Homo sapiens: one gene and its partners. The protein of the gene in region 2 purifies or fractionates together with the protein of the main gene of each other region. This does not show direct contact. Each region holds a gene or a part of one and is shown on either strand. Other genes may lie near its edges. The genes, in order: LORICRIN, B3GALNT1, CST1 and SELENBP1.

The links.
Region 1: the proteins of B3GALNT1 (region 2) and LORICRIN purify together in Homo sapiens (affinity purification with mass spectrometry; 3 studies listed by BioGRID and IntAct, with this or other methods). This does not show direct contact.
Region 3: the proteins of B3GALNT1 (region 2) and CST1 purify together in Homo sapiens (affinity purification with mass spectrometry; 3 studies listed by BioGRID and IntAct, with this or other methods). This does not show direct contact.
Region 4: the proteins of B3GALNT1 (region 2) and SELENBP1 purify together in Homo sapiens (affinity purification with mass spectrometry; 3 studies listed by BioGRID and IntAct, with this or other methods). This does not show direct contact.

What each region holds. Positions count from the first base shown.
Region 1 is NC_000001.11:153,254,398-153,263,310, reverse strand, and holds LORICRIN (loricrin), read right to left. Parts: upstream 3,625-8,913; 5' UTR 3,578-3,624; intron 2,385-3,577; 5' UTR 2,362-2,384; coding exon 1,423-2,361; 3' UTR 1,187-1,422; downstream 1-1,186.
Region 2 is NC_000003.12:161,095,350-161,102,349, forward strand, and holds part of B3GALNT1 (UDP-GalNAc:beta-1,3-N-acetylgalactosaminyltransferase 1), read right to left. Parts: intron 6,283-7,000; exon of another isoform or gene 6,096-6,282; intron 5,885-6,095; coding exon of another isoform or gene 5,790-5,884; intron 1-5,789. UniProt on the Homo sapiens protein: Transfers N-acetylgalactosamine onto globotriaosylceramide. Plays a critical role in preimplantation stage embryonic development.
Region 3 is NC_000020.11:23,747,270-23,755,613, forward strand, and holds CST1 (cystatin-SN precursor), read right to left. Parts: upstream 3,667-8,344; 5' UTR 3,598-3,666; coding exon 3,370-3,597; intron 1,861-3,369; coding exon 1,747-1,860; intron 631-1,746; coding exon 547-630; 3' UTR 293-546; downstream 1-292. UniProt on the Homo sapiens protein: Human saliva appears to contain several cysteine proteinase inhibitors that are immunologically related to cystatin S but that differ in their specificity due to amino acid sequence differences.
Region 4 is NC_000001.11:151,369,100-151,377,082, reverse strand, and holds the start of SELENBP1 (methanethiol oxidase), read left to right. Parts: upstream 1-4,377; 5' UTR 4,378-4,441; coding exon 4,442-4,445; intron 4,446-7,104; exon of another isoform or gene 7,105-7,183; coding exon of another isoform or gene 7,184-7,313; coding exon 7,314-7,370; intron 7,371-7,528; coding exon 7,529-7,641; intron 7,642-7,893; coding exon 7,894-7,983. UniProt on the Homo sapiens protein: Catalyzes the oxidation of methanethiol, an organosulfur compound known to be produced in substantial amounts by gut bacteria. Selenium-binding protein which may be involved in the sensing of reactive xenobiotics in the cytoplasm.

The DNA of each region.
Region 1 (8,913 bases), on a different chromosome or scaffold from region 2:
GTTTGTTTTATATATTATGCCCAGAGATTTTAGTTCTACTTCATAAGAGCGATAGTAAGAAATACATCTACTTCATTTTGTCCAGAACTGAAAGTCTGACTTTCATTTGTTAAAAAACATGAAAGTAATGCAGTGGTTGGGCTCCTGGATCTTTAAGACTGCTATTTATTCTGATCTCCATGAATTACCGATGTAAAATGATGCATGGTAGTGATCCTAAATGGAAGAGTTGAGGAGGAAGACTTTTTTTCCCCCCAGCAGTGATTGAGTAGGAAGGGTACTTTGGCTTTTTGACGTAGCAGGAGTTTTTCTTGAGTAAATCAGTAAATTGGCATTTAACTAGAGCTGGTAAAATCAGGATATGAAACAGAACCTGGAAAGTCCCTGGCCAGGCTGATGTTCTACATCTCTTTTGAGGGCTCTGCAATTAATACATCCCTTGGAGCAACTGTCGCTTCTTCCTTGTTAATTGGAAGCTCTTGTGTTTTCCATGACCTCTTTCTGGTGCCAAGCTTTTACATCTCGTATATGTATGCTGCATCTTCCTAAGTTAGGTAAAGTTCCTTCAAGAGAGCAGGAAACATTCAACCCGAGAAAGCTGATTGAAATTAAAAAAAAAAAAACGAGAGAGAGAGTGAGAGAGCAGGAAACAGCTCCCCTACTACCTCCTCTCCCTACGGGTACCTACTAAAGTGGTCTTGCTCACCCTAGGGGCCCGTAAACATCTGATATGCTTTTTATTTCTCCGTGAGTCTGAGTAGCATGAGCTGGTGCTCCTAATGTGCAGCCACCCAGCTTTCAGACCTTGCAGAATTGGCTTTGGACTGTGAGAGACAGCGTCTTTCCAGGGCAGCCTGTCTTTAAAAAACAGAGTTCAGTAAGGAGACCCACAGTAGCTACTCAATCCACAGGGAGGTGTTTACTGAAGTCTCTCCTCAGGATCTTTGTGTTTTGGGATCACGTCATGATTTTAAGCCGTACACTAGAATGTTCATATGTTTGACCTTCGTTTGCCAGCCATTCCTCCCTCTCCTGGTGACTCCCATCTATCCACTCACCTTTCCGCCAATAGAGTCCGTGCATTTGTAAAATGAATGTAAGTGTGAATGAGCGAATGCAGGAAAGGAGAAGAATGGAATGGAATGGATGAACTTGAACACTACAAATACTCTTGGAGACCTAAAAATTCTCATGAATTTGCAAATTTATTGACTGAGGCACTGGGGTTGGGAGGTAGTTGTACAGAAACCAAAGAGGCTAAACAGCAGAACTAGATGCAGCCGGAGAGCTCAATGGCTTCTTCCAGGTAGGTTAAGACATGAAGGATTTGCAAACCTCGGGTAGCATCATGAGAGCTCTAAGCCCATCGGTGCCCCTGGAAAACACCTCCAACTCCTTCGCCTCCGTGGTACCCTGGGGGATCTATTTGGACGGCCAGGTAGGCGCCTGCTTCTGCTGGGTCTGGTGGCAGATCGGGACGCCCTTGCCACTCCCGGAGCCACCCACGGAGGAGCCGCCGCCGCCGCCTCCAGAGGAACCACCTCCGCAGACGGAGCCCCCGCCACTGATGATGCAGCCGCTGCCAATCCCGGAGGAGCCGCCGCCGCAGCCGGAGCTCCCGCCGCCCCCGCCGCTGGAGAAGCAGCCGCTTCCGCCGCTGCCGCCGCCGCCGGACGACCCCCCTCCGTAACTCGGCTGGGGCGCGCACGAGGTCTGAGTGACCTGCTGCGAGGAGACGTAGCCGGAGCCGCTGCCGCCAGAGGAGCCTCCGCCGCAGCCAGAGCCGCCGCCAGAGTAGCCGCAGACAGAGCCGCCGCCCCCGCCGCTGGAGAAGCAGCCGGAGCCGCCCCCGGAGGAGCCGCCGCTAGAGACGCCTCCGTAGCTCTGGCACTGGACCGCCTGGCCCGAGAAGCCGCCGCCGCCGGAGGAGAAGCAGCCGGAGCCGCCCCCGGAGGAGCCGCCCCCACCGCTGGAGAAGCAGCCGGAGCCGCCCCCGGAGGAGCCGCCGCCACCGGAGGAGAAGCAGCCGGAGCCGCCCCCACCGCTGGAGAAACAGCCAGAGCCCCCGCCGGAGGAGCCGCCGCCTCCGGAGTACTTGACGCTCCCACCGGAGCCCCCTCCGCAGCCTCCAATGCCGCCCCCGCCCCCGCCGCCGGAGGAGCCCCCGCCGCAGCCGCCGCCAGAGTAGCCACCGCCGCCGGAGTAGCCGCAGCCAGAACCGCTGCTACCGCCCCCTGAGCCGCCGCCGCCGAAGAAGCCGCAGCCACCACCGCCGCTGCCGCCGCCACCGCCACCGCCGCCAGAGGTCTTCACGCAGTCCACTGGGGGCTGAGGGGTGGGCTGCTTTTTCTGATAAGACATCTTGTCTGAGAAGGAAGGAGAGCCTGGAAGGGGAGAAGAGAGCATCGCTGGACCAGCTGCAAGAGGATACTTACGGAGGCAGCTGCATCCATAGGCAACATCGCCATCCTCCCAGGGCTCCTTCAGGTGCCCGGAGAGCCCTCAGCGGGGTTTCTTATGATTGCTGCTTTTGGAAAAGTTGAGTTCCTCATTCCCCTGCAGAAAGCCTTCATTATGCTTTAAACAGCCCAGTTAGCAGTGCCCATTCTTTCTCCCAGCTCTGCCTCTGACCACTGTTGTGTGATTTGAGGGCAGATCACCCACACGCCCGCCTCTTTCTCATTTCCTGTTAAATGAAAGGGTTTGAACACTTCATCTTTCAGGCCTCTTCCAATCTCAACACTGATTCTCTGAGTGCAAATAGAAAACTACCACAAACCTCTACCTAGGATAGGAGATTTTACCCATTCCCAGCACAACAGAGAGAGGTTTGTCGGACTTCATTCTATTGAGGGCTGTTGCACTCCATCCTCTGCAGAAGCTCTTAGTTCAAACTCTTGGTCTGTCCCACTGAGCTAGGCCATGAACCAAGGGCTAGTCACTAGAAAAGACAGGCTCTGCTGTGGCCCTGCCTGGAAACAGGGGAAGGACCCTGGTGGTCCTTTGGACCAACATCCCCGACCAGAAGCTATTAGCCATCTCTTCCATGATTTTCTCAAGTCCAAGTTTGGTAGAAGGGACTTTGACTAGTAGGAAGTTGTATTTCCCTCTCAGAACTTCTAACTCTGTAAAACAGCAATTGGATTTCTGTGGCACCTGAAATCCCTCCCATCTGCAACTTTTTTGGATCATTCTCCCTACTCTCTTGAGAGTGGCTCAGCCTCTCCTCCTGACAGGTTCACAAGGTCTGCTCAGCCTGTGCACAGGCTGCCTTGGACAGCCTCTGCAGAGTCCTTCTGTGCCCGGCACCATGCCTGCCCCTATGCGGGTGCCAGAGAGGCAGGAGATAGTCTTGTCTTTGTGGAGTTTACATTCTGGCCAGAAGACCAGAAACACCATCTGCATGGCAGCAGCTCATCCCCTGCTCCTTTCCTGACCGCCCTCTAAATGTGAGTGCTTTTGGGAAGGCAGAGGTCCTATAGCTCCCAAAGGGGAAAGAGGCCCTGGTCCATCTAATCTAGTCAGGCCTGGGCAAGACCAGCTGGGAAAATGAGAGAGTCAGTAGAACCACACTTACCCAAAGCACCAGGAAGGGTGAGTGAGGAGAGAAGATGCTGGCAATGTGAGGAGCACTGATCTCCTGAGGTTATATATAGAGCTCTCCCTGACTCATTGATCCAGGCCAGCTTCTTGTGTTTGGCCTCAGTTACGTGACCCGTGGCTGTCGGCCCCACCTCCCTGTGATTGCAGGCACAGGATGGCCCATTCATGAAGGTTTTGGCATTCTTGAGATGGGCAGCCTGGTGTGTGACTGGCCCCTTCTCTGATGCAACAGTGTGGCAGGCTCATCAGTGGGGTCACCCAGTCAGAGTGGATGGCAGACATTGTTTCCAAAACCTCTGGCACAGGATGCATACCAGGTGACCACAGGGCTGTGCTTGAGGAATAGGTCCCAGAGTCTTGAGGTGCCCTAAGAGAGTCAAACTGAAGATCTCAGTGCTTTATCCAAGGAGTAGGACCTTCTAAATCCTACTGTTTGACTTCTGGTCCTGCTACTCTAAAAATCCTCAAAACTTTAGAACCCGTTACTCCTTTGCAAAAGTTTATCTCCCAGGATTTCATGTGTGTTTTGCTGGGGTGTTTCTGTCCTGCCCACTGGAGGCATGAGTCCCCAGCACCCAGCTCTGGACTGCACACCATAGACAGTGCTGTAACTAATGTGACGTGGGAAGCTACTTTGATTCATCCCCAGAGACAGCAGGCATTTGAGACAGTCTGAGAAGGGTAATCAATACTGACTTTCCTTGCAGCAGAGCAAACTAAAGAGATGGACCATGTGATCCCACAAAGGCTCTTTGGCTCTGTTGTCCTGTGGTGTTGTGTGGCAAAACACTGACCTTAGCCTGAGGGGCAGTCATTGAATGGGATAGACTTGAGATTAGGTGACAGATTGGGTGCTCCCTTTGCTACTTGCCAGCTGTGTCACCTTGGGCAGAGTCATAGCTCTTAGTGCAGTACCTGCACATGGGAGGCACTCAGTAAGTACTTATTGACTGTGGAATGATCAAGCTTTTTGACCCTCAGTTACCTTGTCTATCAAATAAAAATAGTAGTACCTATTTCACAGGCATGTGAAGGGAGAATAGTTATGTTAAGTGTAGAAGGTGATGCTGTCTTTTTTGTTGTTTTCTCATATAACAGCACATCCTTACTTCCAACCTGGCCTTCCCTTGGATACCAAGGCCAGAAAGGAGTCCATGGAGGGATTGGGCAAGTCCAATTCTTCTCCTAGGAGAATAACTCAAAACTTTCTTGTTGACTCTGGACCAGTAGCATCACCTCTGCGCATGCAGAACAGGATGCTGCTTCTTTCATAACCGGAAGTCAATTGGTATTGTTTAAGATACCACAGTCAAACTTTGTTCTGCCCAGTTATGTTTTGAAATGACAGCTCCAATAATAAATTCTTAATTATAGTGCACTTTTAATGATCCAGATGATCCTGATTAGACTGTGGCCATCAGAAACTTGTGGCACTAGTTTCAGTTTGGACAGCATAAACCCAGGTGAACCCAAGAGGAACTCAGGTGCTCTCCTCCTTAGAGGAGACCCAGTAGGGAGAAGACAGGATCTGTTGGAGAAGGCAAGTTTCTCTGCTTGAAGTTGAGGCAGTGTGGAGAATTTGGAGGGAAACAGGCCGCGATTAGTGATTGCTGTGGGTATAAGAAAGAACAGTTTTATTTAGCTGGGCCACATTGGAAAGAGGAGCACGTGTGGACGACGGTTCCCAGTACTGATATGTGTGGTCCCTTGTTGGCCCATTGCTATGTGTTCACCAGTCCTTAGCAAAAGTGTAAGTAAAAGGACGTCAGCAGGGTATTCTTGGGAAAGAAAGTCTTCAATTCTGAAATCATGGCCTTCCTACCTCTTCCTTTAAAAGATGTGGTGACATGAGGCTGTAGTTGTTTCTTTTATGTCCTGCCATGTCAAAATGAAAATTTGGCTATGGTGTAATGATTACCACTTTTTTCTGAGGGAGATATTACTTCTCCATGGAATTCTAAAATTTGGGAACTAGGCCGGGCACAGTGGCTCATGCCTGTAATTCTAGCACTTTGGGAGGCCAAGGTGAGAGGATTGCTTGAGCCCAGGAGTTTGAGACCAGCCTGCACAACATGGCAAGACCCTGTCTCTACAAAAAATACAAAAATTAACGAGGTGTGGTGCCATGCGCCTGTAGTGCCATCTACTCTGGAGGCTGAGGTGGGAGAATCGCTTGGGCCCAAGAGTTTGAGACCAGCCTGGGTAACATAGTGAGACCTCATCTCTACAAAAAAATAAACAAAATTAATTGGGCATGGTGGCATGTGCCCGTAGTCCCAGCTACTCAGGAGGCTGTGATGGGAGGATCGCTTCTGCCTGGGAGGTCAAGGCTGCAGTGCGCCAAGATTGCACCATTGCCCTCCAGCCTGGGTGACAGAGTGAGACCCTGTCTCAAAAAATAAACAAAACGGGAACCTAAAGTACAGTTGACCCAAAATGACTAATCTTCAAATTGTCCATGTTGGCTTTGGGGGGTTCATTTTCTTCTAAGAAATATAGGGTTTTTTTTTCTATTAATTTTAAGATGCTAATTCTTTATTTGTTAATCCAGCCAAAACAAATGTACTGGGCACCATGTTAAGCATCAAAGAGCCAGAAGGCTTTCCAAAGCTATGCATGGGTCTTTTTGGTAGAGTCGCGGGTGGGGATGGTGCCCCATGCCTGCCTCTGCCACCCTATATAGCATTTAATAAGAAAGGATATACATATTTAACTATATATAGTTTTACATACATACATAACTGTATATAGTTTTACATACATACATAACTGTATATAGTTTTACATACATACATAACTGTATATAGTTTTACATACATACATAACTGTATATAGTTTTACATACATACATAACTGTATATAGTTTTACATACATACATAACTGTATATAGTTTTACATACATACATAACTGTATATAGTTTTACATACATACATAACTGTATATAGTTTTATATACATATGTGACTATAGTTTTATATACATATATGACTATATATAGTTTTATATACATATATGACTATATATAGTTTTATATACATATATGACTATATATAGTCATATATGTATATATAACTATGTCACATCAGCCTCTTCTGCATGTTAACTAAATATGTGTACTAGTTACAAGTTATATATATATAGAGTTACATATATATAGAGATATATCTGTAGAGATATATATATATATATATAACTTGTAACTAGTATAAATATTTCGTTAACATGCAGAAGAGGTTGATGTGACATGATACTGAGTACCAGATCTTGTGGCTTTCAGCCCTGAGTTAACCTTGCCTGATATACGAATATATGAACCTGGTTTCTCATTTCATCTTTCTGGAGCAGAAGCAGTAGTCCTAATGGGATATCTGTGTGGGCAGCAACTGATTATCACCTTTTATCATATCAGTGAGGAAATAATGGGACTTTGTAGAATTGTAGAATGACACATAGGTATTTGGGGTTTTGTAAGACTTGGCAGTTCAGATTTTTAAGGTTTATAGCCTTTAGACACCTAACCCTGCAAGGTGTGCTTGATAGCACATTTGACTTCTGCAGTTTGACAGATTAGGACATGGTTCTTGCCTATACTTGTATCCTTAGAGGGGATGGTCCTTAAAGCAGATGCTACACAGTGCCTGGCATGGTGCTGGGCATTAATAGGTGCTCAGTAAATCCCAGTGGAATTGAAGGAACTCTTGAGACCTATTGACTGACTGCGGTTGAGAGATGATCTTGTCAGATGATGAGGAGTGGAGGGTTTCAGCATGGAACTACAGATTAAACCTAGCCACTGTGCAGAATGAACAAGCCTTGTGCAGGGGATCCAAGGCCAGCTATAGAAGTGACACTGGGCTAACACTGGGCTAGTGGAATTTTAGCCTGCTTCCCTGACCACCCTCACAATATCTATCTGATGGGAAGGCCCCGTATAGGAAGTGTGTGTGTGTGTGTGTGTGTGTGTGTGTGTGTGTGTGTGAAGGGTGGTGATTCTTCAGAAAGATGTGGCAGTCTAGGGTGTTAAGGACACATTGGGGCTTATCCACAATCACAGATGCATCCTTTGGAGACAACCCAGCTTCTGATTCATAAATCACAAAAAAGTTGGAGATTTGTTCTTTCTGCATCTCAGCTTAGCTTATCTTTGTGGGAAGCTCACATCTTCCTGCTACAGGCATCTTCAGAGCAAGAGAGAAGCAGGTAGAGGAGACAGTGTGAGGGCCTCCCGCATTGTGATGCACAGCTTGGCCATCTTAACAAGCTATGTTGGGGGGATTTAGGAAAGAGCAGCTGCAAACTACTCTGAGAAGGCTGCTTCTCTGAGTAGAGGCACCTGGCTCCTGGGCCCCAGTCTGAGATTTCATTTCTTGAGCTTGGTGAGCCCCAGTTGGATGGAAGCATGCTCATCACAACCTTGAAGTATCCAGAGCTACACACATGGGTTCTCATGACTGAGTGCTGACTACTTATCTAACAGGTTAAAGGGGCAGCAGGTGGCTGTAAAGAATAAAATGAACACAGGACAGGGGCTTGGGAGCTTTGGCAGGACAGGAGTAGTGCTTGGAAGCCCTTTGTACTGTTGACTTGGAATGGGAACAGTTTTCTCTCACAGTCCTGGCCCAGGAAGTGTCACAGAACTCCAGGTACCTCCTGGGCTGCCATTTTCCTCCTTTCTACTGCCCTTCTGGGCCAACAGTTTGAAGGGGTGGCTGATCCTCGGTGTTACATGGGGAGAACTGCTTAGAGGTGGGTAGGAGAAGGAGAGCTCTGCAGTGGTTCGTGGCTACTGGTGTTCCCTCTCCAGGAAGCTTCCCTGGATTCATCACACCCACTGGTTCCATCTCCCTCACCACTTTCCCTTTCCAAGGCCTTAAGGAACAATTGTACTAGTTACGGTCTGCTAATGACACATCGCTTTGACTTGTTTCTTTTTTCAAGTTATAATTGTCCTTGAAGGAAGGCTCCCTATTAGTTCTTAACTCTGCATCTTAGGATTTAAAGAGCACTTATAGCCCCCTGGGGTGTTATCAGGCAGTGTTGACTCTTACTTGGTCCTCTTTTGGGTGCTCCTGGAGCCCATCATTTTGCTGAGGGTGGGGACCACAGATGAGTTGTTCAGACCTTTTCAAACAGCTTATAGATGCACACAGGGTTAGCAGTGCATCCAGGGATCATGCTTGCCTGGGCTTGGACACTTCCTCTGTGGACAGACTCTTCAGTTTATGGACCACTGTCACATAGGTTCAATCCTCCTAACAGTTTTGTGTGCCCAGTAATGTTATCTTCAGTTCAGGATGAGGAAGCAGCTT
Region 2 (7,000 bases):
CTTCCATAAAGTATATGAATGTGCTTTGGTTAAGGAATAGGCTAAGGCGAATATCTGGGCCAAAGTGACTTAGCAAGTTTAGGGCACAGGTGCATACTTCACTTGTTAGATAACCTGTCTTTGTAAGTTTATACTTGGCTTTGAGTTGCTATTGTTTGTAAAAGGTATAACTGCCCTGCTGATGCTGCCCATGGGGTTTGGGTTGGCTTGACATGGCTTGGAGGTGCACTAATGCCCAGAGAGAGTAATGCTACTGACCCCTGTAAGGAAGAGTGGATTGCCTTGAAGGCGGGAAGTGGGGACTTATGCCCAGAGGGAAAAAATTAAGCTGCTAACCCTGGTAGTATAGGCCAGGGAGTGCAGCTGCAAGGCTGGGGGCAGCAGGAGCAGGCTCATAAGAGGAGCCACAAAGCTGAAGCAAACAGCCAAGATAAAGAAACTGTGAGAAACAGTTAGTGTGAGGAAGCTGCTGATTAAAAAGCTGCTGAATAAAACTACATTTCACCTGCCTAAAGCCCCCCGAGTGTTCTTTCAGCAATTCGCCCATCCACCCACTCCCCTCGGACCTCAACTGGGACTCAAACCTAACACCTTGTTGGACCTCAGCTGGGACTTAAACCTAACACCTTCTCAGCATTTAACCCTGTCTAGACTTTTAAAAATCTATTTCTATTTGTTTATTGTCTATTCCCTTCAAAAGAATATAAGATTGGAGAGAGGGAAAACCTGACCCCACTTATTCACTGCTATATGTCCAGTGTCTAACACATAGTAGGCTCTCTGTAATATTTGCATACTTTGCAAATGATTTGGTAATGTACTTTTATCCACTTAGTAAATATTCCTAAGAATAAGCTGAATCCAAAAGTAACCTGAATTTGTTGATTATGTTTTTCTTCAGCTGTCTTCTAATAACAAAACCTTATTGTAATAGGCTATGCTGATTCTGATCATGTGCATTTTAAAAGGTCCAAAAAAACAAGAAACAAATTTCAGTTAAATTTTAGGTCCAAGCACGCTAGAGTCAGGATCATCCATATGCTAACTATTATAGATAATTACCAAACTACTGTCAGTTTTGCAACATTCTAACTTTTCTTCTACATAAAATACTGCAAAGGGAGTGGAAATCTTAATTGCCTAAAAAAAGGTCCTGTGCATATTAAGTTTAATTCAAATCATCATTACACCAATCATGTATATTCCTTATAAAGGGAAAATAACTATCAATTCACATCTTTGAGGGAAATTCCCCCACTACCCTTTCAAACTAAACACATTAACTCATAAAGCAATATAAAACTCTACCATTCAATTAGACTTGTCAATTAAACATCTAATTATTTTCACAACTCACTGCTGCTTTGTGTTTGAGGCCCTCCCCTGATTATATTAGAAATAAACACAACCAGTGCCATCTGACCACTACTTTTTCTTCCCCTCTTCTTTAACCCAGTGGTTCTCACTTTGCGGCACATTATAATCTCCTGGAGAACTTGAAAAATACTGGAAGCCAAGCGGGATCCCAGGCCAACTAAATCAGAGTTTCAGAGGGTGGCAGGGCTCAGGTGGCAGTAATTTTAGTATACGTGCTGCCAAAGCGAGCACCAGGTGGCAGTATTTTTAAAGCTCCCAGGTGATTTGAATGTGATGCCTAGACCCTCACCACTCAAAGTGCATGGGCACCACCTAGGAGTGTATTAGGAATACAAAGCCCCAGGCCCCACCCTAGACCTAGTGAATCAGAAACATTTTTAACAGGTGGCTTGTGGACATACTGAAGTTTGAGAAGCAATGAAATCCACTTGAGCAAATTACTCAACCTTTTTAAGCTTCAGTTACCTTATCTGTAAAATGGGAGCAATAATACCTTCTTTGCGGGTTTATTGCCAGAGCTACATGAAATAATACGCGCTAAACATCTAGGATGGGGCTGGCACACAGTAAGGGCTAAGTAGATGGTATTGCTGTTATTATTAGAGTCCACACTATATGCTTCCTCTACATATATTATTTGTCTACATTTCCTTTACAAACCTTGCTCCTAACTCCCAAATGTGTCTTACATGGCATGACATGCTCTGTAATACAATTAAACATGCAAATAAATCTTAGTGGATCCACCTTCTCCTTCCAAATCAGTAAGTCTTCTCCTAGAGTCCAAGGTTTCTGTTTTCCTAGAATCTCCCAGTGCCTGATGTTCTGCTATCCTGCAAATACGAGCCCCAAAGAACTACTGGTAGAGGTCCACAAAGCCAAACGCACATTTCTGGGTTCCGCCTCTGCACATGTGCTCCCCTCTCCTGGGATCCTTCTTTCTGCCCCATGGTCTTTCTACAACTGAACATCATTTTTTCTGGGAACCACTCACACTGTCAAAAGTCTCACCATAGGCACTTGTAGCAGCTGGAGGAGAGCTGCAAAATACAAGAAATTTTTCCAGCTGTAGTGCGTGTGATATTCAAGTGGTGTCAGGCTACTTTGAGGATTGTGCATATTTGATATGGTTTACATTTTTCTCCTTACTTTGGAGCATACAGCTGGACATATAATAGGAAGTGAAATTTTATTTACTGAATGAATGAATAGCAATTGGTATATCTGCTTAATTTGATAACACTTAAAAATGAAATATGCTTTACTCTGTCAGGGTAAATAGGCTCACATTAAAAAGAACCTGCTTTCTACTCTATCCAATTTCTTCATACTCCCCTCTCTCCAAAATTTTAGCAATAGTCCTTGCTTGGTCCTGGCACTGTAGTAAGTATGTTTTATATTTCCATTCGTTTGATGACTGCCGCAATCTTATGAAGTAGGCACCAATATTATAACATTTATCTTTCAGTTAACCAGCTTGAAATTTGGACACCTGTTCAGGAGTCAGGGTGTCAGAGCCTGCAAAGCAGCACTAAAAACTCAGGTATATTCACCACCCCAAGTGGAGTCTGTAGCCACTGCACTACAAAAGCTTCCCTCCTGCCTTGTTTTATCCTATTGGCCTGGTATCTTCATACTTTCACAGTGCAGCACCTCTGTTCTTCTTCAGAGGTGAAGAGTTGTCAGAGCTCAACGAGAAACTTTTGGCCGGGCATGGTGGCTCATGCCTGTAATCCCAGCACTTTGGGAGGCCAAGGCTGGCAGACTGCTTGAGGTCAGGAGTTCAAGAGCAGCCTGGCAACATGGTGAAACCTCATCTCTACTAAAAACACAAAAATTAGCCAGGCATACTGGTGCATGCCTGTAATGCCAGCTATTCGAGTGGCTAAACCAGGAACTTTAAAGAAAGGGAAGTTTAGTCCAATTTCCATGCAAATCATGCTCACCCAGTTTTCAACAAGTCCTCTCCAACAAGTTCACTTTTTGGCAATGGAGAAATTCCTGAAGGGACTAATGTTAATGCATCTGTATTCCAAATAACCCTGAATAAGTTGCTGAGACTCTGTAAACATTAGTGAACACTTATGACACAAACACAATGACCATCAGGAGCTAGAAGAGATTCACTGAGAATGCTCTGTTTGACTATCCTAAGCCCCATTTTCAATAGGGTTCTTCAATAGAAGATCAAGGTAACTCGCAGGTAACACCTAAGAATCAAGCTTCTCTGTAAAGAGAGCTGGACACTTAAAGTCCTTCTGAACAAAATGGGAAAATGTGAGTAATAATAGTAGCTAGATGGCTTAAAAATTGGCTGATCCATCATAGCCAGTGTATTTTTCATGCAGTCATTTGTTCAAGAAACATTTCTTGGGCTTGTGCTGGACTCTGGGAATAGTGTTCCACAAAAGTGCCAGAGACTTGTCCTCCTGCTGATGTTCTAAGGTTGACTGGAGCATCTTTGTCAAACTGGGGAAAAAAATCACAGGCCTATCTTTAGCCTTTTCTCATTTCATATTTCTAATTAAAGAACGTGGGCTTATTCAATTTTGTAGGCAGGAAAAAAAATGACAAATTCATTAAAAGATGTAATTACAATCCAAAAGGTTTTAACAGGTGAGAAAAAGCTAAAGACAGCAAGATGAAATTTGATGGGAACACATTTATTGTCCTATGTCAGAGTTCGAAAAACCAGCTGCACAAGGGCAGGATGGGGGGCCATTTTAACAGCAGCCTAAACAGACCTTACAGTTTAGCTGAGTATGAGTCCAATATGATAAAAGGTGGTGAAGTAAAGGAATAACTGGGCAGTCAGGAAACAAGGATTCTAGTTCTGGCAGGGAGGCCAAGTCATTGAATTTGAGGAGTTATTTCTCAACAGAATTTTAGGACATTGGGCTAGGATACCTCTCAGGCACCATCTGGCCCTACCAGCAGAGGGATGATGTTCATTCTTGCACACTGTGTCCCCAGCACCTAGCATAGTGCCTGGCACATAGGAAGCACTCCCAAGTACTTGTGAATGAATGGCAGTGCTAACAGAAACTCTACAAGTGAATACTAGATTGTGTCCCCCTTCTCTAACACACACACACACACACACACCCCTAATACACTCCTAGGTTCAAGAAACTGGAAAAGCATCTGGGCAAAGGGGGTCATAATTCCATAGCCCCATATGAGTTCCATTTTGAAAGGGTCACTAACAAGTTAGAAGAGGGTAACTCATTTGGTGAAGGGTTTATCATCTCCCATAAGGATTGCATGACATGTGGCTGAAGGATCTGGGGATGTTCTGTTCTGGAGACAAGAAAAGCTTAGAAGTGCCATGGTAGATACTTTCAAATTATTTTGAATAATAAAATATGTAAGTATCACTCCAGAAGGCAAATGAGAAACCAAAGATAGTGTTATTCTAACAAACGTCGAAGGTCCCTTCTAACTACAAGGTTCCACAACTTTGTTATTGATGTTTAAAATGTAGTTCATAGAAAAGGTTTCATTTTGGCATATTTTAAATTGTTCAATTTTTAAGAATGAATTTGAAGTATTTACTGAGTTTAAGAAAAAAGCCCACCTCGAGCACCACTCTCTGTAGTTGTCACACAGTTTTAGGTAGACAGTGAGTATAAATACCTATACTCATTACCATTTCCCAATTCTGCCCTTGAAACTCTGCTGGTTGTAGCACCACCACCCTCAGGTATCTTCTAAGATGTATGGGAGAATGTCTTTCATTAAAGCTTCATTAAAAGGGAAGCCTGCTGCTTCATTCAGTGTGCTGAGGTATAAGACATCTGAGTTTTTAAAGACACATGTAAGTAAGACATATTATATATACTGTTATACAAACTACTTTCTTGTAGGCAAAACAATCCCTGTATATGGGAATCTCTGATAGACTTCTGGGTTGTGGCATGCAGAATCTTTTAGGGATTTCTGGGTTTGGGCTGAGAAAAATGAGGAGCAAACAAAAGCAGCAGGACTTTAGAAGGAAAATTTAGCCGCAATTTTCTTTTTGCTTCTGCCCTATCTGCATATTCCAATAAGAACATAAAAATCACTCTTAATAATTTGCAATACATGTTAGGATTTTTAGCAGGGCTGTTTTTTTTTTTAAAGGCATAGTGAACTTCTGGGCACTATACAAGTTTATAGTGCTTCTAACTACAAATTACAAAGCACATTTCATGACACTGTAAAATCTGTGTTAACATCAATCCCATTTTCCAGGGAACAGTGCAGCCCAGGTAGAGGAAGACATGGAATCCAAACTCAAGCCCTTCAACTCCAAATGCCAAGCTCCTTCTGCCAGGGCACAGTGCCCCAGGAGAGACCAACCTCACATCTAATCTCACAGCCTCCTGAGATTCCTGGGCAGGGAGCAAAGAATGCAGCAGAAGCAGACACACCTTTACACTCGGGGTGAGTAGTCGGAGAGCACCACGTGATAGAGCAGCCAGCGGGAAGAGCCAACAGGTCAACCGGGTCCAGGGAGCTAAGAAAACTGGAGCAGAGCAAAGATCACAAAGTCAGGCAGAACAGCAGCAAGACTGCCCTGAAAGCTGGGCTTTCTGTGTCTGTTTTGTTACAAAGAGCTTTATCCACTGGAGGAAGAGTATCGGGGAGCTGCTGCAGTTAACATTTCTTCCCATTACTACCCTAAATTGAGAATATTACAGCTCTTTACTATTCTTCTTAGTTAAGCCATCAATTACCTTTGCTTTAGTCATCTGAGGGTATTTCATTCCTTCATTCAGTGTTCTGGACCTGTGTTAGAGGTTGGGGCAGCAGTGGGGAAGCAGACAGACAAGCCCTGTCCTCAAGTTGCCGACACTCAATGCAGAGCGTGGTGGAAGACTCACAACGACACATTTCACACCAAACATCATGAGTGAGGCCCACCTAGAGAACATGGGGGAGGCTTTCCAGCTCAAATGTTTCTAAACTAGTGACCAAAATCCACAGCAGGGAACTGAGTTTGCACTCTCAGAATGTGTTAGTGCCCAATAGAGGCATAAATTTAGAGCCTGTTATCAGTATGGAGAAGGGAACTATTTAATACTAAGAGATAAAACTGGACGGTAATTTTTTATCTTAGAAAGTGCGTAACTCCATTCTCAACGACAAAGTCTGTAACCAAAATAGCAGCCAAATACAATTCCAGATATGAGATATGGTTTGAGCCCTATGACATGCTGCAGGAATAGGTGGCTGCAGGCTTGTGAAATGTTTTAACAGGAGGACTTGTGTATTCTAACTTTTATGAGACTATTCAAAATGCACAGCTTGAGTTTAGCAGAAATCCATGTTCTATCCCAGAAGCGGGCAAACTTTTTTCCCCATAAAAGGCAGATAGTAAATATCTTCTTTGAGGGCCCTAGGGTCTGTCTCAGCTACTCCATTCTGCTTTTGCATAGAAAGTGGTAACTCCATTCTTGAAAACAAACTCTGGAAACAAAATAGCTAAATATAGTTCCAGATAACAGACACAGAAAGAGAAGCAACAGACAATGAGATCCTACCTACCTACCTGTGTTCAGAGTCAGAAATACATGGGGTGGGAAACCGATAACCTACTCTAGCTTTCTTTTAGTTCCTTAATGTCTCAGAGATTCAAGGA
Region 3 (8,344 bases), on a different chromosome or scaffold from region 2:
AACAGCAGCCTAGCTTCTGGGGCAGCTGCCTGGGCCCCCTCCTCTCCCTGACCCCCTCACCAGGGGCTGCTGCAGCTGAAGGCCTGGGTTCCCAGTCCCTGGCTGCTCTCTCCCTGTTCTGAAGCTCAGGTCTCTGAAAGTGGCAGCAGCTCCCCTGATGGCCTTGCTGTGGCTGCGTCAGCTCCCAGGTACTCCTGTGATCTCCACACCAGCAGGACAAGGAGGCTTCATAAAGGAACTGCAGAAACCCCGCCTGCGTGCACATCCCCAGACAGCCAAGAACTCAGAGGGAGGCGATGCTACTGTTTAATTGCAGGAGGTGGGGGGGTGTGTACCATGTACCAGGGCTATTAGAAGCAAGAAGGAAGGAGGGAGGGCAGAGCGCCCTGCTGAGCAACAAAGGACTCCTGCAGCCTTCTCTGTCTGTCTCTTGGCGCAGGCACATGGGGAGGCCTCCCGCAGGGTGGGGGCCACCAGTCCAGGGGTGGGAGCACTACAGGGGGTGGGAGTGGGTGGTGGCTGGTGCGAATGGCCTGGCACAGATCCCTAGGATTCTTGACACCTGGATTTCACCAGGGACCTTCTGTTCTCCCAGGGAACTTCGTAGATCTCGAAAGAGCACAACTGTTTCTGTGAAAGGGAAGAGAGAGGGCCAATCAGTGTGGGTTACAGTTAAAGGGGAAGATGCCCAGGCATGAGATGTCAGAGCCTGGGTGAGGAGGATGGAGGTGAGACACTGGGCCCTCACCCACCCCTACTGAGTCCCAGAGTGCTGAACTAGAATGAATAGTGACTGTTCCATTGCCCCTCCCAAGGCTCCAAGTCACCAGGTGGCATTGGGACCCCACCCCAGCCTGCAGTGTCCTGTCCCAGCACAGCCCTGTGAGGAGTAGCCTGGGCAAGGCCTCGGGAGCCCCAAGGGTGCAGGGCATGGGGAGGCAGCTCAGTTCCCCCAGCTCCTTCCACCTCCAGCACCCAGGCCAGCACTAAGAGGGGCCAGAGGGAAGAACCCAGGGCAGGGCAACTCCCCCTCAAAGAGCTGGGGCATGGGGCAAGGGCAACAAGGGGAGTGTGGCTCTCCCCTGAGTGGAGACCTCACAAGAACCAGCAGGTCCTTGGAGAGGCTGGTGTTGGGTGAGCCGGGCAGGTCCAGGGCTTCCCAGCTAACAGGCCTCTAGGTCCCACTAATCTGATCACTGTGGCTGTGGCTGCATGCAGGTGCCTGAGGCTGGGATTAGACAGAGCCCCTTCTCCCTGCCCAGCACACAGCCGCACAGCTGCTTCTTCCTGTCCAACAGGCAACACTCCAAAGCAGGCAGAATTGACCTTATAGTAACCATTCCCAACCTAAAGCCTTCCTAGCAAATCAAACACATCACCCTCCTCCCTCACCACCCCATCTGCACATACATGGACAACTACGTAAACTCACTTGGACCCCTCATCCCCATGGATCTATGTACAAAGCCCCATACACCCCCCACACATCCATGCACAGGCACACATGCTCCCATCCACCTCCCTGCACACACTGGCACAGGTGTGTACACACGTGCACCTTTCCACATGCACACCTACATGCACACCCCCCCATAAGTACATGAACACGTACACATCCATGCATACACGGCTCCCCACATACCCACCTGCACACACACACCCTCCAAACATGTGTAGGGCAGAGGCTGACACATACGCACCCCTCTGCAGTGCATGACTGGCCCGGGACCTGCATCAGGAACGTACCTTCTGCAGTTCTGGCTGTTCATGGAAGGCACAGGTGTCCAAGTTGGGCTGGGACTTGGTACATATGGTGCGGCCCACCTCTACGTCGAAGAAGTAATTCACCCCCCCAACGGTCTGCACACAGGAGAAAACAGGACAGCGCCCCCATCAGTTCATGCACTCACAGGCACTTCACTGTGGCTGAGTCACTGGACTTGCTTGGGGGCTTCGTGAGCTGCCCACATGTCAACACAAGGCACACAAGCCCCCTCTTCCTGTCAACTGGCAGGGTGCTGAGCCTCATACCCGCTCTTAAACATTGCTTTCTCTGTGCTGGGTAAAAGGATTCATTGAATTCTGCTGTCTGTGGCTCAGGGGCGAGGGAACACTGACTCTTTTCTAGGAAGTCTGTCTGATGACAAAATTTCACCTAACTTCTGAAAATCTTATTCCCTCCATTTAACATAGATTTATTACTTCACTCAGAGTAGGAAATGAGATGCTTCACACACACAGATATTTTGGATCAATGGGGCCGCCCGGATGCCACCATTTCAAGTGTGAGATTCAAGATACATTTCTCAAGTCAGCAGCACACCTGCGTGTCTTACAGTTGCAGATTAGAATTGAACCCTTTCCCTGCATAGGGCCTTTCCCAGACACAATGTGGCAGAGCTGTGGAGAAACCTGGGATGAGGGACTCTCTGGAACCAGGAGGAACTGCTGAGATCCCTCGAGTGTCAGTTTACCCATGTCTAAAATAGGCTTCTGGGCCTGATGGTCTGCAATGCCCTGTGCTTCACTCCAAGTTACTGTCATGCTTGAAAGGGAGATGCAGGCCAGCGGGGACCACGGCACCAGGGAGTGTATCTCGTATGCAGGGAGAGAGCCCCAGCTGACAGCTGCAAGAGGAGAAACGGGGCTGGTGGGGATTCCTTTGAATTTCCAGGAGAAGGTGGAGGAGCTCTAAAGACTGTGTCACTATTTGCTGCTGTGCCATGGGATGCAGGTCAAGCTGGGCCCAGTTGCCCTGCTGAAGCTCCCTCCCGACCTGACCCCTCCTCTGCTCTGCTGGGTGACCACTGTCCTCATCTGGCTGAGGTCTAACTGCATCAGCTGGTAGAGGCAGGGTCAGGCATGCTCCACCCCAGCAGGGACTCAGCGCCCTGGGCTGTAGGGGTTTGTCAGCCGGCCTGAGGGTGAAGGCCGCTAGCCATAAGGGGCTGTGCCCAGGGGCGTGACTTGGGGAAGCAGGGCTCTGCAGAACAGTGAGCCAGGTTCCTGTGTGGCCCCTGCAGAGAGGACTCAGGGAGGAGTATGAACCTCATGGCCTGGATCTCATCCTGAGCAGCATCAAGCCCACCCAGAGTAAGCACAGTCTCCATCCACACCTGCTGGACCCTGGGAAATGCCACAGTCATGGTACAGACACAGTGGCTGCTGCAGGTTAAAGGAAGCTGAGTTTGTGCACGGCCGGGGAGCGTGCTTAGGCATGAAGGGCATCAGCGGAGAGCCAGGGAAAGCTGAATGAATCTGAGCATTAGATCATGAATGTATCAGTGTTGATTTGCTGGGAATGCTCTTGGGGGTTGGGGAACAAACCAGGCTGGGACCCAGGACCCCTGGGGTGGAGGGAGCACCTACCTGTTGCCTGGCTCTTAGTACCCGCAGCGGACGTCTGTAGTAGTCATCTTTGGTGGCCTTGTTATACTCGCTGATGGCGAAGTGAAGGGCACGCTGTACCCACTCATCATTGAGGTCTGCGTTATAGATGCCACCCGGGATTATCCTATCCTCCTCCTTGGGGCTCCAGGCCAGGGCCACAGCTAGGGTGGCCAGCAGGAGCAGCAGGGTACTCAGATACTGGGCCATGGTCTCCTCAGAGGCAGAGCACAAAGCTGGAGCTGCAGGAGAGGAGGGTGAGAGCCCGAGGCAGGGAGCCCAGACCAGCAGGCAGGTGTGCATTTATCCTGCTTTGGCAGCCCAGCCCCACCCACCTCCATGCCCCACCCCTGACTCCTCCTCCTCTTTCTTCCCATCCCCTCTTTCTCCATCTCTCTTTTCACTCCCCCGCTACTACAAGCTCCCTCCCTGCCTAAGTTCCCCCTGCCCCTCCCAGGCCTCCTCCTCCATCTCCCCCTCCTCCCCACTCCAGTCCTCACTGCAGCCTCCCCGAGCCATGCCTCTCTTCCCCAGTGCTCCCAAGCTTGAGTCACCCAGGTCTCCACAGAGGTGACACTGGTCCTTTGACTGTGAAAGCTATGTGACTTCCTGTTTGCTCAGAAAGGGGAAAAATACAGGGCTTGGCCTCCCAGGGTCTTCAGATATCAGGGGCATCCAGGAGCACTTGGTCACAGTCTCTGAATCTCTGGAACAGGGAGATTATTTCAGAAAGTTCCAGAAGACCCTGTCCATACCCTAATGTGGAGAATTTCTTTGCCAAATTTAAGGGAATTAACCTTTTTGGAAAAGGTCACTGGATTCTCTTTTCATAATTCATTATTCAATAAGCAAACCTATCACCAGCTACTCCCCGTGCCAGGAGGTCTAGGGCTTGAAGACGGAACCTGGATGATGAGCCATAGAGGTGACATTGCAGAGCTGCTGCCCAACAGACATGTGACACGAACTCACGAGCAATTGAAAATTTCTAGTAGATGCATTTTAAAAGATGAGAATAAATGGGTGAAAGTAATGTTTAAAATATTTATTTAACCTTATATAGCCACAATGTGATTTCAGCTAATGGGAACAATTATTAATGAGATCGTTTATGTTTTTTTTTTTTTTGTTTTTTTTTTTTTTGGTTTTGTAAATCTTTGAAATTCCCTGTGTATTTTTAACACTTAGACCAGAAGTAATTTTGGACTGGCCCCATTTCAAGTATCCTGTGGCACATGTGGCTGGTTCTATGGAACTCCATAGTCCATTCCTACACAATGTGTGTAGGGGATGGTAGGTTACGATCAAAAATTAGGGTCAGGGAGTTATGCTCACTCTTTTGGAAGTGAAATAGAACAGGGGCTAGAGAGAGACCACTGGACCCTGGTCAGGGTGGTCTCTATGAGACTGGAGAGGTTGAGAAGCCCCAGGCAGTGGGGAACAGCCAGTGCAAAGGCCCTGAGGTGGGGTTGGGACATGCCTGCTCCAGAAAGTGGAAGCTCCTGGAGGGGGTATGAGGAGGGAAGGGAACGACCTGGAGTCTCACAGTAAATGTGGGTGGGGCCCGGTGGAAGGTGCACGGAGACCCCTGTGAGGCAGTGGGGGTGTCAGGAAAGGGAGCAGCAGCCACGGGATGAATGTGGGAACCCACAGGTCTCTCTTGCTTCTGTCCTAGGCAGCCATGCTTCAGGCTCCTTTCCTCTGTTCACTGCTTGGAAGACTCACCTGATATTTTAAAAATTGCCTTAAATGAGGTAGAATTTGCATACAATAAAATGCCTAATAGTATGTGCTCAATCTGGGGTGTTTCATAAATGCATACACTTGTGTTACCACTTTATCCAGACCTGTGACATCTGCCTTGCCCCAGACAGTATCTTCCTGCCTTTCCAGCCACCCTCGTGCCCACCCCACCTTGGCAGTCCCCATCCGGCCCCATAGACTCCTTGGTCGCCTGTCCTTGAGCTTCCCAGGAATGGAGTCCTGCAGAGCGAGCCCATGTGTGTCTTTGTCCTTTGCCCAGTGTGGCTTTCCGGCGGCCCCCGAGTTGCTTCATTGCCAGGATTGTGAGTTCTCCTTCTCCGCAGACTGAGAGGATTTGGTCAGTTGGGTGTCCTATGGGCTGACAAAGCCCCCAGCTCGGGATGCTGTGGGCCTGGGCTGGAATGTGACTCCAGGAGAGGAGAGGGTGGAAGGAGGCTCTGAACAGACAGCTGCTCCCTTTGTTCTCTCAACCCCACCCTCCATGCCTGAAGGTGACCCTGTGGCAAATGCCCTTATGGGGAGGTGGCAGGCTTGGCCAGAAGCTACAGGAAACCCTGGACCTTAGCAGGACACCCAGAGGACTCTCCCAGGAGTGGTGGAGGTGAGCGTTGGCCAGTGTCAGCCCAGACCTGTTTAGAACACTAAACAATACTATAATAAACAAATGACCAAGTGCAGAAACCATCACATAAAGGTGCAAGTGATGAGGACAAGCTGGCCAAGAGTCATCCTGGGCTGGGACATGGCTGGGGCTGGATCAGCAGGAACCCGGCATTGGGAACCATATTACTCATGGGTGCTCATGTTCAGTATTAGTACAGGGAACCTTGTTACCTGAGGCCTGGTGACCATCTCACCCCACTGTGAATCCAGCACCCCTAGAATAGCCGTGCAGCCCGGCAGATACAGCAGGTGTACCGAAGGTGTTTACTGCTGGGTGAAGGAGGGAAGGTCTTCAAACAAAGCTGCACATATGCCTCCTAGTTAGACAGGAAATGGGGAGAGATTTCCAAAGAAGGGAAAGAGAAGGAAGTCCCTTACCAGGTGTTTGGGAGCAGAATGGTCATCTCCAAAGGGTAGGAGTTAGTTCTCCTCTGTGGCTCCCACCTTCCTGGGACAGCTGGGAGTCCAGGCTCAGGAAGACATGCTGTGCAGAGGGTAAACTGAAGGTCAAGCAATCCTCTTGTTTTTTTGTTTGTTTTTGTTTGTTTGTTTTGTTTTGTTTTAATCATTGGAAAGGAGATGCAGGTAACCCAAATAGCGAGAATGTGCTGGTGGGTGGAGTATGAGGGAGGGAGGCCAGAGTGCTGACCTGTGCCCTGTATGTGATGACACCACCAGTGGTCATCTTCTGTCTGGGCACTGGCATGCACTGCAGGGAGGGTCAGCTGTTCTGATGCAGCAAGCTCTCTAATCCCAGTAGGAAAAATACCAGTGTACATTGCTCTTAGGAGGAGGTACAAGTGCGATGTCCAGTATGGAGTGATAGGAAGTAGCAGGTTGAGGTAGCTGGCCAGCTGCTCCAGATGTTTGATGACCTTAGGCAAATGGTGTGTCTGTCATGCATCTGGAGAAAGAGGCTACTTTCTAAAGCATAGTATCTGGGAGTTAAGACCAGCAGAGATGAGCAGACTTCAGCAGTGATGTATCAACATGGTTAAAAATGATGGAGTAGCCAGGTGTGGTACTGCACCTGTAATCCTAGCTTATTAGGAGAGTGAGTCAGGAAGATTCCTTGAGTCTAGAAGTTCAGTTTCAGCCTGTGCAACACAGTGAAACACCCATCTAAAAAAAATGGCAGAACACTTTGTTCCCTGATTTCTATAGTCCACAGTTTTAAGGACACACTAGAAGAGGGCCAGATAGCAACCATGGACTGAGGAACAAGCTTGGGGCCTCCAGCACCCATGTAACCTAGAGGAGTCCAGCTGCCCAGGAGGGGGCATGTTTTCCTTCTGCTAGGTGACAAAAGAGAAAGCTGTGTTCCCCTAGGCTGCACAGGTGAACTGATCTGATTATCTGAATTAGTAGGATGAGAAATTAGGTGAGTGGCAGAAGTTCTCTGCAATAAATGACCAATAATAAGTGAACACTAAACAATACCATAATAAATGACCAAGCGCAGAAAGCATCATGTAAAAGTGCAAGTGGTGAGGACAAGCTGGCCAAGAGTTGAGATTCTGCACAACTGGGTTTTGAGCAACTAACAGTTTGGTCTATGGTAGGAGCTGGGACTGAACAGCCACAGGATTTGGTGGCTTCTCAAATGGGAAGCCCAGGAGCCTCCTTTATGGAGTGCCTGGAATTCTCTGGGGTCAAGCTCATCTCTTTCACACTCCATCCTTCCTTCTTTTCTCCCTCTCCTCACACATCGTGGACACGTGGATGCTTCTAAATTATGGGCCCATGTTGGTAACACATTTGGCTCTGTTAGGACATGTGGATGCTTCTAAACTATGGGCCCATGTTGGTACCACATTTGGCTTTTCCACATCATTAGGAAACTGATACTCATGGGGAAGCCTGCTGGCAGCCCCGGCTGGGAAAGGCAAGAGAGGGCAGAGCCCAGTGTCAGGTCTGATTGTTTTGCACTCCGTGGGGAGAAAGAGAATCCTTTCTCTCAGGGACCAGCACATGAATGGTATTCCTGGCTCTGGAGTACAAGTTAACATTTATTTTTCAAAAATCAAAAAGAGCATTTGTCAGTGCAGATTCACTGACTGAAGAACCACATATGAATGGAGGGGAGTAGGGGCGGCCTCCGGAACTCGGGCTGCTGGCTGCTGCAGCCAGGGATCCATCTGACTCCCTGGGCTACAGCCTGCAGAGGCCTGGCCATGAGGAAAACAGATGACTCTGAGGAGGTGAGTCATCTCCTTGACATCTCTGGGTGGTCAGACTTTCTTATCCTGTTTGGGTCACTGCTGGGACTTCCCTGTCACTGTTTGTGTAACCTTAAATATCAATTCCTTTAGCAAAATGCAGTGACTGTGGAGATTGGTTCCTCTTCCTGCTTGGAATCCTGTTCAACTCAATCACTGAGTGTTGGAGCTGGAGCCAGAGGCCATCAGGACAGCCCTGCTCCCTCCTGTGGCCCTGCCTGCCCTTTCCTCCTGTCACAGAAGAGCTGGATCCAGTGACAAGACTCACCTTGACCAAACCCTTGTTAGGCTCCTCTGAGCCTTCCTCTGCC
Region 4 (7,983 bases), on a different chromosome or scaffold from region 2:
ACTGAAACAAAATGGCTTATAATTTTTTTTTTTTTTTTTTTAGATGGAGCCTCCTCTGTCGCCCAGGCTGGAGTGCAGTGGCATGATCACAGCTTGCTGCAGCTTCCACCTCCCAGGCTCAAGTGATCCTCCTCCTTAGCCTCCCGAGTAGCTGGGACTGCAGGTGCACACCACCACACCTGGCTCATTTTTGTAATTTTTGTAGAGAAAGTGTTTCACTATGTTGCCCAGGCTGGTCTTGAACTCCTGAGCTCAAGGGATCCACCTGCCTCAGCCTCCCAAAGTGCTAGAATTACAAGTGTGAGCCACCTCACTGTTTATTCTTCCTTCTCTTTAAGCAATAGAGGTAAGGAGTCAAGACGATAACATTTGCTTTTTAAACACCTTCTGTCCCCAACCTTAGCATCTCCCTGGATATGATAGGCCCCCAGCCACTCTTCAGTGCTGCCCACTGGGACACAGGCTTCTGATAAAACTGAGTGGCGCTGCAGTACTAGGAGCTTAAAGGGTTACCACTCCAGAGACATTCACTGTAGCCAGGAGGTGAGAAGAGGCCATCTGGTAGTAACACAAAGAAATAAACTGCTATTGGTGAAGTTTCAAGCATCAATGGCAGGCCAAAGGGAGGATATTTCTGAGTGGATTGGCAGTGAGGAGAAAGTCCTCCAAGTGGTTCTCAAATCATGCTTTTTATAGACAGCCCTGGCAGAGGGCATTAAAAAAAATTATTTCAGCCGGGCGCGGTGGCTCACGCCTGTAATCCCAGCACTTTGGGAGGCCGAGGCAGGCAGATCACGAGGTCAGGAGATAGAGACCATCCTGGCTAACACGGTGAAACCCCGTCTCTACTAAAAATATGAAAAATTAGCCAGGCGTGGTGGCAGGCACCTGTAGTCCCAGCTACTCGAGAGGCTGAGGCATGAGGATGGCGTGAACCTAGGACATGGAACATGCAGTGAGCCAAGACCTTGCCACTGCACTCCAGCCTGGGTGACAGAGTGACGTTCCGTCTCAAAAAAAAAAATTATTTCTCTTCTCTGAGCCATGTTATTACCCTGAGCAGCAGGCTTTGAACTCACTGTCATTCAGAAACAGTGCATTAAGTGTGGGCAACGGAGTGAATTGGGAAAACTCTGTTTCCTGAATGTAAGATGAAGAAAAAGGCATTTACAGGCCAGACACGGTGGCTCACACCTGTAATCCCAGCACTTTGGGAGGCCAATGCGGGTAGATCACAAGGTCAGGAGTTTGAGACCAGCCTGGCCATATGGTGAAACCCCATCTCTATTAAAAAGTACAAAAATTAGCTGGGCGTGGTAGCATGCGCCTGTAGTCCCAGCTACTCAGGAGGCTGAGGCAGGAGAATCACTGGAACCTGGGAGGCGGAGGTTGCAGTGAACAGAGATCACGCCACTGCACTCCAGCCTGGCGACAGAGGGAGACTCTGTCTCAAAAAAAAAAAAAGAAAAGAAAGAAAAAGAAAAAGGCATTTAACCTCTCCAGCTGTGCCATGGGCGGAACCTGAGCTAATTGTTAGTGTGTAGGGCCCGGCATGGCGCCCGTCACCTCTAGTAGCAGGTTCTCAGTAAACGCTACTCCCTTCACATCTCCTACACATCCCTGAGGGTATGGAGTTGGTCTGTTAATATAAGGAGAAATGAGCAGAACAGGGCTCTGAAACTCTACTTAGCTGGTGAAAACTCCAACCTCTCCAGCCAGTCCTGCCTCAGACCTCCATGGGCTGCTACCTTTATGCCTTACAGGCATTTTGTGCACGTTTGTGCTTTTTGGTTTGTTTGTTTTAGTTCTTTTGTACTGTTTGTTTGCATATAATTCTGTACCCATACATACCAAGCAACCCCACCTAATGCTGCATCACCCCTACATTACCCTACTCCTTCACAGCACTTATCTGAAGTGATTTTATTTATTTGTGTATTTGCATGATTATCAGTCATCTCCCCTAAAAAGTCATCTCCATGAAGGTAGCAACTTTGCCCTGTTCACCACTTTGTCTACCATATCTGGCTCAAAAGAGGTGCTCCAGAGGGAAGGATAGGCAGCTGGTTGGGAGAGCTGTAGCTCAAAAGGGACCGGGGCCAGTCCTTCTCCCCAGCATGGGCCCTCACTGTGGCCCTCACCTGCACTGCATGTGACCTTCCATCCTTCCTTTCATCTTCCTTATAGTTTTTCTTTTAATATATTTATTTGAGCTTTTAGTTACAAAAGCAGTACTTATTATTTTTTTAAAAATCCAAAATTAACTTTGGGAGACCAAGGCAGATCACTTGAGCCCAAGAGTCTGAGACCAGTCTGGGCAACATAGTGAGACCCCCCATCTCTACAAAAAAAATTTAAAAATTATCCAGGTCAGCCAGGCACGGTGTCTCAGGCCTGTAATCCCAGCACTTTGGGAGGCGGAGGTGGGTGGATCACTTGAGGTCAGGAGTTCGAGACCAGCCTGTCCAACATGGTGAAACCCCGTCTCTACTAAAAATACAAAAATGAGCCAGGTATGGTTGTGGGCACCTGTAGTCCCAGCTACTCGGGAGGCTGAGGCAGGAGAATCGCCCCTCTACCTTTACTGCCTCCCTCTGTAGCCCAGATTAGGATAACTTCCCCAACCACCTGCTGGCTGTAGAGCAAGAGTTCAGGGAGAAAACCACAGGCAGAGGTGAGGGGTGCCATGGAGTTGCTGCAGAGACCAGCCAGGTCAGAGCTCAGGAGCATGAAAGAGGTAGTCAATGACAGACCACAACAAACAAAATAACAGCCTTTTTTTTTTTAAGTTAATGACTCAATAATTTTTTATGAGAAGGTGGGGATAAAGTTTCTTTCTCTTTCAGATCTTGGGTGGTGGACTAACCCAAGCCAAGAAGCCGGAGAATAGAGAGGAGGCAGGAGATGGAGACCTCAGGAGGAGGAAGAGGGGAGGGCCAGAGGGAAGGGTGAAGGCAGGGTGAGTGGAGGTAGTCAGGACAGGAGGAAGCTGGCAAAGACAAGGAAGCAGCCTTCAGGGCCTTCCCCGTGGGGCAGCTGCACACACAAGACTCTCTTTGATGCCTGGCAGGCTGATGGCACAATGGTGAGGATAATAGATGCAGGATGGAGCCAAGAGGGGTTGAGTGGCGCTGGGGATAAGAGAAGACCCTTGCCCCGGGCAGCCACAGGGAGTCTTCCTTGATGGGCACATGATCCCTCACTGATGGGAGCCAGGAAGACAGATACCCAATGCACCAAGGCCCAATTTTGCTCCCCTTCCCCCACTCTGGTTTGGAAACCCTGTATTCTACTTGCAATCTCAAGCCCAGACTTTATTCTTTTTCCTAGCCAATAAAAACTTCACCCCAGAGCTTTTATCCAAAGAGTATGAATATCTGGAATAAGAGGGCAATCTTAGGGAAGAAGTGACCCTGGCTGATGGGCCCACAGTCCCGGGTGCCCCTAAATGCTAAGAGACAGGTCCAAATACAAAGACGAGCATTTGGAGACACAGGAACACATACGTGCGCAGGCTTACACAAGCACATGCACAGCCACATAGCCACACACTACACATACACAAGCACTTATGCACATGTCCACACAGGCGTAGATACTCTAGCAAGCACATACTCACAGAGGCGCGCACACACACACACACACACACACAGGCGTAGATACTCTGGTAGGCACATACAGAGGCGCGCACACACACACACGCACAAATACACACAAGCACACTCACAGGCACATTCACACACGTGGAAATTCACACACAGGCACAGATACACACTCATGCAGGCACGTGCACGAGCAACACGCAGGTATACAGGAACACACACATGCCCAGACACACAAATCCACACACACCCAGGCACCCACTAAAGAGCACGAGCTGGTCAGGGGCAGCGGCTCACACCTGTGATCCCAGCACTTTGGGAGGCCGACACGGGTGGATCACCTGAGGTCAGGAGTTTGAGACCAGCCTGGCCAACATGGTGAAATCCCTTCTCTACTAAAAATACAAAATTGCTGGGCATGGTGGTGGGTGCCTGTAATCCCAGCTACTCGGGAGGATGAGGCAGGAGAATCACTTGAACCCAGGAGGCAGAGGTTGCAGTGAGCCGAGATCGCACCACTGCACTCCAGCCTGGGCAAGAGTGAGACCCTGTCTCTAAATAAATAAATAAATAAATAAAGCACAGGCTCCCACACATACACACTTAAACACATACACGCACACCCCATAATTCAAACACCAGTTGCCCTAGGCCACTTGAGAGTATCCTGGCCAGCTGCCCTGAGTAGTTTACTCTGGGCTACAGCCCGGGCCCTCCTCCTTCTCTGCCCCACCCCCAGCTGGTTGTATAAATTCCCTCCCTTCGCTCCTTCCCCGGAACAGCGGCCTCTGACACCAGCACAGCAAACCCGCCGGGATCAAAGTGTACCAGTCGGCAGCATGGGTAAGGAGAGGGGTTTCCAATCACCCATTGCCTGCTCTGTCTGCCCCTAATTTGGAAGGCCCTCCTCCAGAAAATGCTAGAAAACCTGAGTGGGGAGCTGGGGAGGGAGTAGTGGACTCTGCTTCATTGTCCCCAGTCTGCACACCCCCTCCCCCACCACCCCACTGCATTTCCCAGCTCAGCCAAACTTTCTGAGGAAGACGGGCAGAGGCACTGCTGGGAGATGGGATCCTGGGCCCTGACTTGGCTCCATCCAGCAGAGGCTGGGACCAGGGTGCCTTTCTGCAGCTGGGAAAATCAGATGGGCGCTCTTAGAAAACACCACTAGGTCCCTGGCCCTCACATAGTAGAGAGGTGATCCTGATTTCAGCCATGGGCCAACTTTGTACTCCAGCGAGGTAGGGAGTCCAAAGCCTTTCTGTGCCCAGGTCACTCTCTAGCTACTCCACACAGCAAAGCTCTCTGGGAGGGAAATCAGAGACCCCCACACTCTTTCACTGGGGACCTGTTTCAATGCCTCCCCCACCCCTAAATCCCCCTTGGCCCTGCTATTCCTCCATCTGTAGGCTTCTGGGTGACAGGCTAAGAAGGAACTGAGGTTTGGTTGGGAGGTCCTTCCCCGCTCGGGGCTGGCTCTTGAGCTGGCAGAATGCCGAGCTGGCAGAATGCCCAGCAGCCAGCCTGACATGGAAAACCCACTTGAGCTTTCCATGAGTCCATCCCAAACCCAAAGCTGCTCCGAGACCTTGCTTGAGATGTTTCAGATGGGGGTATTCCCCAGAAAGAGGAATGATGCTCCCTGGGGCTGCAGTGGCATGCCAGGCCTGACCCTAAGAAATGCTGGGGCTGGGGTTGCTGGGGTGTGGGGTGGGCCGAGGCTGCAGAGCGGGCAGCTCCATCTCTGCACTTTTACTTCCCTCTCAGCTTCTCCCTAGCTTTGTATTTTTTGTATCTCTGTCTTGAGGTCTTGGAGTTTTAAAATCTCCTTTCCCTTCTGTATCCAGCAACCTCCTTCCCCACCCCCTGTCATCTGGTGCCAAGCCCCGACTTAGCAAGATTGTGTAACAGAACCAGTCTCCTTAACTCCTGTGAACTGGACCTCTCTCTCTCTCCCTGCCCCACCTCCAGCCCTCTCGCTGGGCATCGAGCACTCCCTGGCATTCTCCTCTCCTCTGGCACAGCCCTTCCCATATTTACACAGTAATTCATTATTTTTTTTTTTTTTTAGTCAGAATTTCACTCTTGTTGCCCAGGCTGGAGTGACTGCAGTGGCGTGATTTCGGCTTACTGCAGCCTCCACCTCCCAGGTTCAAGTGATTCTCCTGCCTCAGCCTCCCAAGTAGCTGGGATTACAGGTGTATGCCTGTATTTTTTAATACAGGCTAATTTTTAATACAGGGTAATTTTTGTATTTTTAATAGAGACAGGGTTTTGCCATGTTAGTGAGGCTGGTCTCAAACTCCTGACCTTAGGTGATCTTTCCGCCTCAGCCTCCCAAAGTGCTGGGATTACAGGCATGAGCCACCGCACCCGGCCTAATTCATTTTTATGAAAGGCCTTTGGAATACATTGTCTTATTTGTCCTCCATATCTACCTAGCAAAGTAGGTAGAATATCATTATTGCCCACTTTTCGTAAATGAAGAGGAGAAAATGGAGAAACGGGGCGTCAAAACTGGGACTTGAAACCAGGTTTCCAGACTCTGAACGCTGTTGCTGCCTCTCAGCTTCCTAAGTCTCTTGGCTGCTGCGAGTGGGAGTCCCAGGCCCCAGTGGAGGCCCCACTCTGCCTACTCCTGGCTCCCCACTTGCGGCCCAGCTGTGAAGGCAGAGGCTGGACTGGCCACAGGACAAGGCAGGAGACAGGGCCCAGGCCTGTGGACTCCACTCCAGGGTTTCTTTCAGCCTGCCACCCCCTCTGGGTATTCTTTAACCCCTGCTCCCCAGCAGGCCCCAAACTCTGATGCTGGGGTGCTGGTAGCTGTGATGTCCCAGCCCTACTGCACATCTGCTGACTTACATCCTGGAGATTAGCATGGCCCCTCTTGCCAGACTTCAGAGATAGGGAGGGTTGCTCCCTATCTCTCTGGTGGGCAGGCCTCTGGGCTCTCCAGAGTTGGGCCAAACACCTTACTTTACAGATAAAGGAAGTGGGGCACACCCAGGGGTAGAAACCAGCCTGAGGACTTCCAGTTGGTATTAGCCCCAGACCCTCGGTTATGTAATCCAGCCCTTGGCTAGCAGCCTGGGATCAGGACCCAGGGGAGAGAAAAGCAGGAAGTGGCCTCCCCCTGATATAGAAGCATCTTGGTGAAGGGAGCTGAGCAGGCGCCACCCCACTCCCTGAGAGCAGCTCCTCAAGAACAGCCAAGGGTGCCTGGGCTTCGACCAGACAAACACAGAGCTGCACACCTACTGCACCCTCGTGTTTACTTCTCGTAAAAGCCCACTGTGAAATTCTTACCATCTCCATTTTACAGAGGATGCAGAAATTGAGGTCGAGGAGCTTCAGTACTTTGCCCAAGCTCCCCTGGCTAGTCAGTGGTGGGCTGGGGTTGGGCCCCGAGTCCGTGTCATATTCACTACACCACACGACCCCGGCTGCATCAGCCCTCCTCCCACCCTCCCGGGGCCCTGCTGGACTGTCTGTCCACCTTCAGGTCATGTGTCTCCAGCTCTTCCCAGCACAACCTCACCCTCCTCAGGGCTCTGAGGGGGCGGAGAGGACAGGCCAGAGCGATGAGGCTGGAGTGGGGACCTAGGCCAGCCGCACTGCCGTGGCCCGCTGGGATGTGTGCTGCAGAACGTGCGGAGGGAGCCTTCACCCTCCAGAGCGTGGCCCAGCCAATGCGCCCCATTGCTTCCACAGCTACGAAATGTGGGAATTGTGGACCCGGCTACTCCACCCCTCTGGAGGCCATGAAAGGTAATTGCCCATGGTCTGAGAGCCAGCGCCCTACTACTGATTCCACAGCTGGGGGTGGAGGGACTTCAGACCTAGCCCCCACCCTCTGGCACACCCAGCACTTCCCCTACCTTTCCTTCCCACCCTGCCGTCCCTGCTGCCTGCTTTCTACCGTGCAGGACCCAGGGAAGAGATCGTCTACCTGCCCTGCATTTACCGAAACACAGGCACTGAGGCCCCAGATTATCTGGCCACTGTGGATGTTGACCCCAAGTCTCCCCAGTATTGCCAGGTTAGGCGGGGCTTGGGCGCCAGCTACTTTGAGACCATAGCTGCCCTCATCCCTGGCCCTGGGCCCCCCCTTCCCAGCTCCATCCTTCTTGGCCCTCCCTGGGGATGCTTGTGCACGCTCAACCTGGGACAAGGGGAGTGCTGAAATCCAGCCTGTGCCGTGCTTCCAAACCAAAATGAGTCCACAGGGCGCCTCTTCCAAAAGTGGACAGAGGCGTGGCCTGGGGGAGCACCACCTCTCCCCGCATCCTAGGTCATCCACCGGCTGCCCATGCCCAACCTGAAGGACGAGCTGCATCACTCAGGATGGAACACCTGCAGCAGCTGCTTCGGTGATAGCACC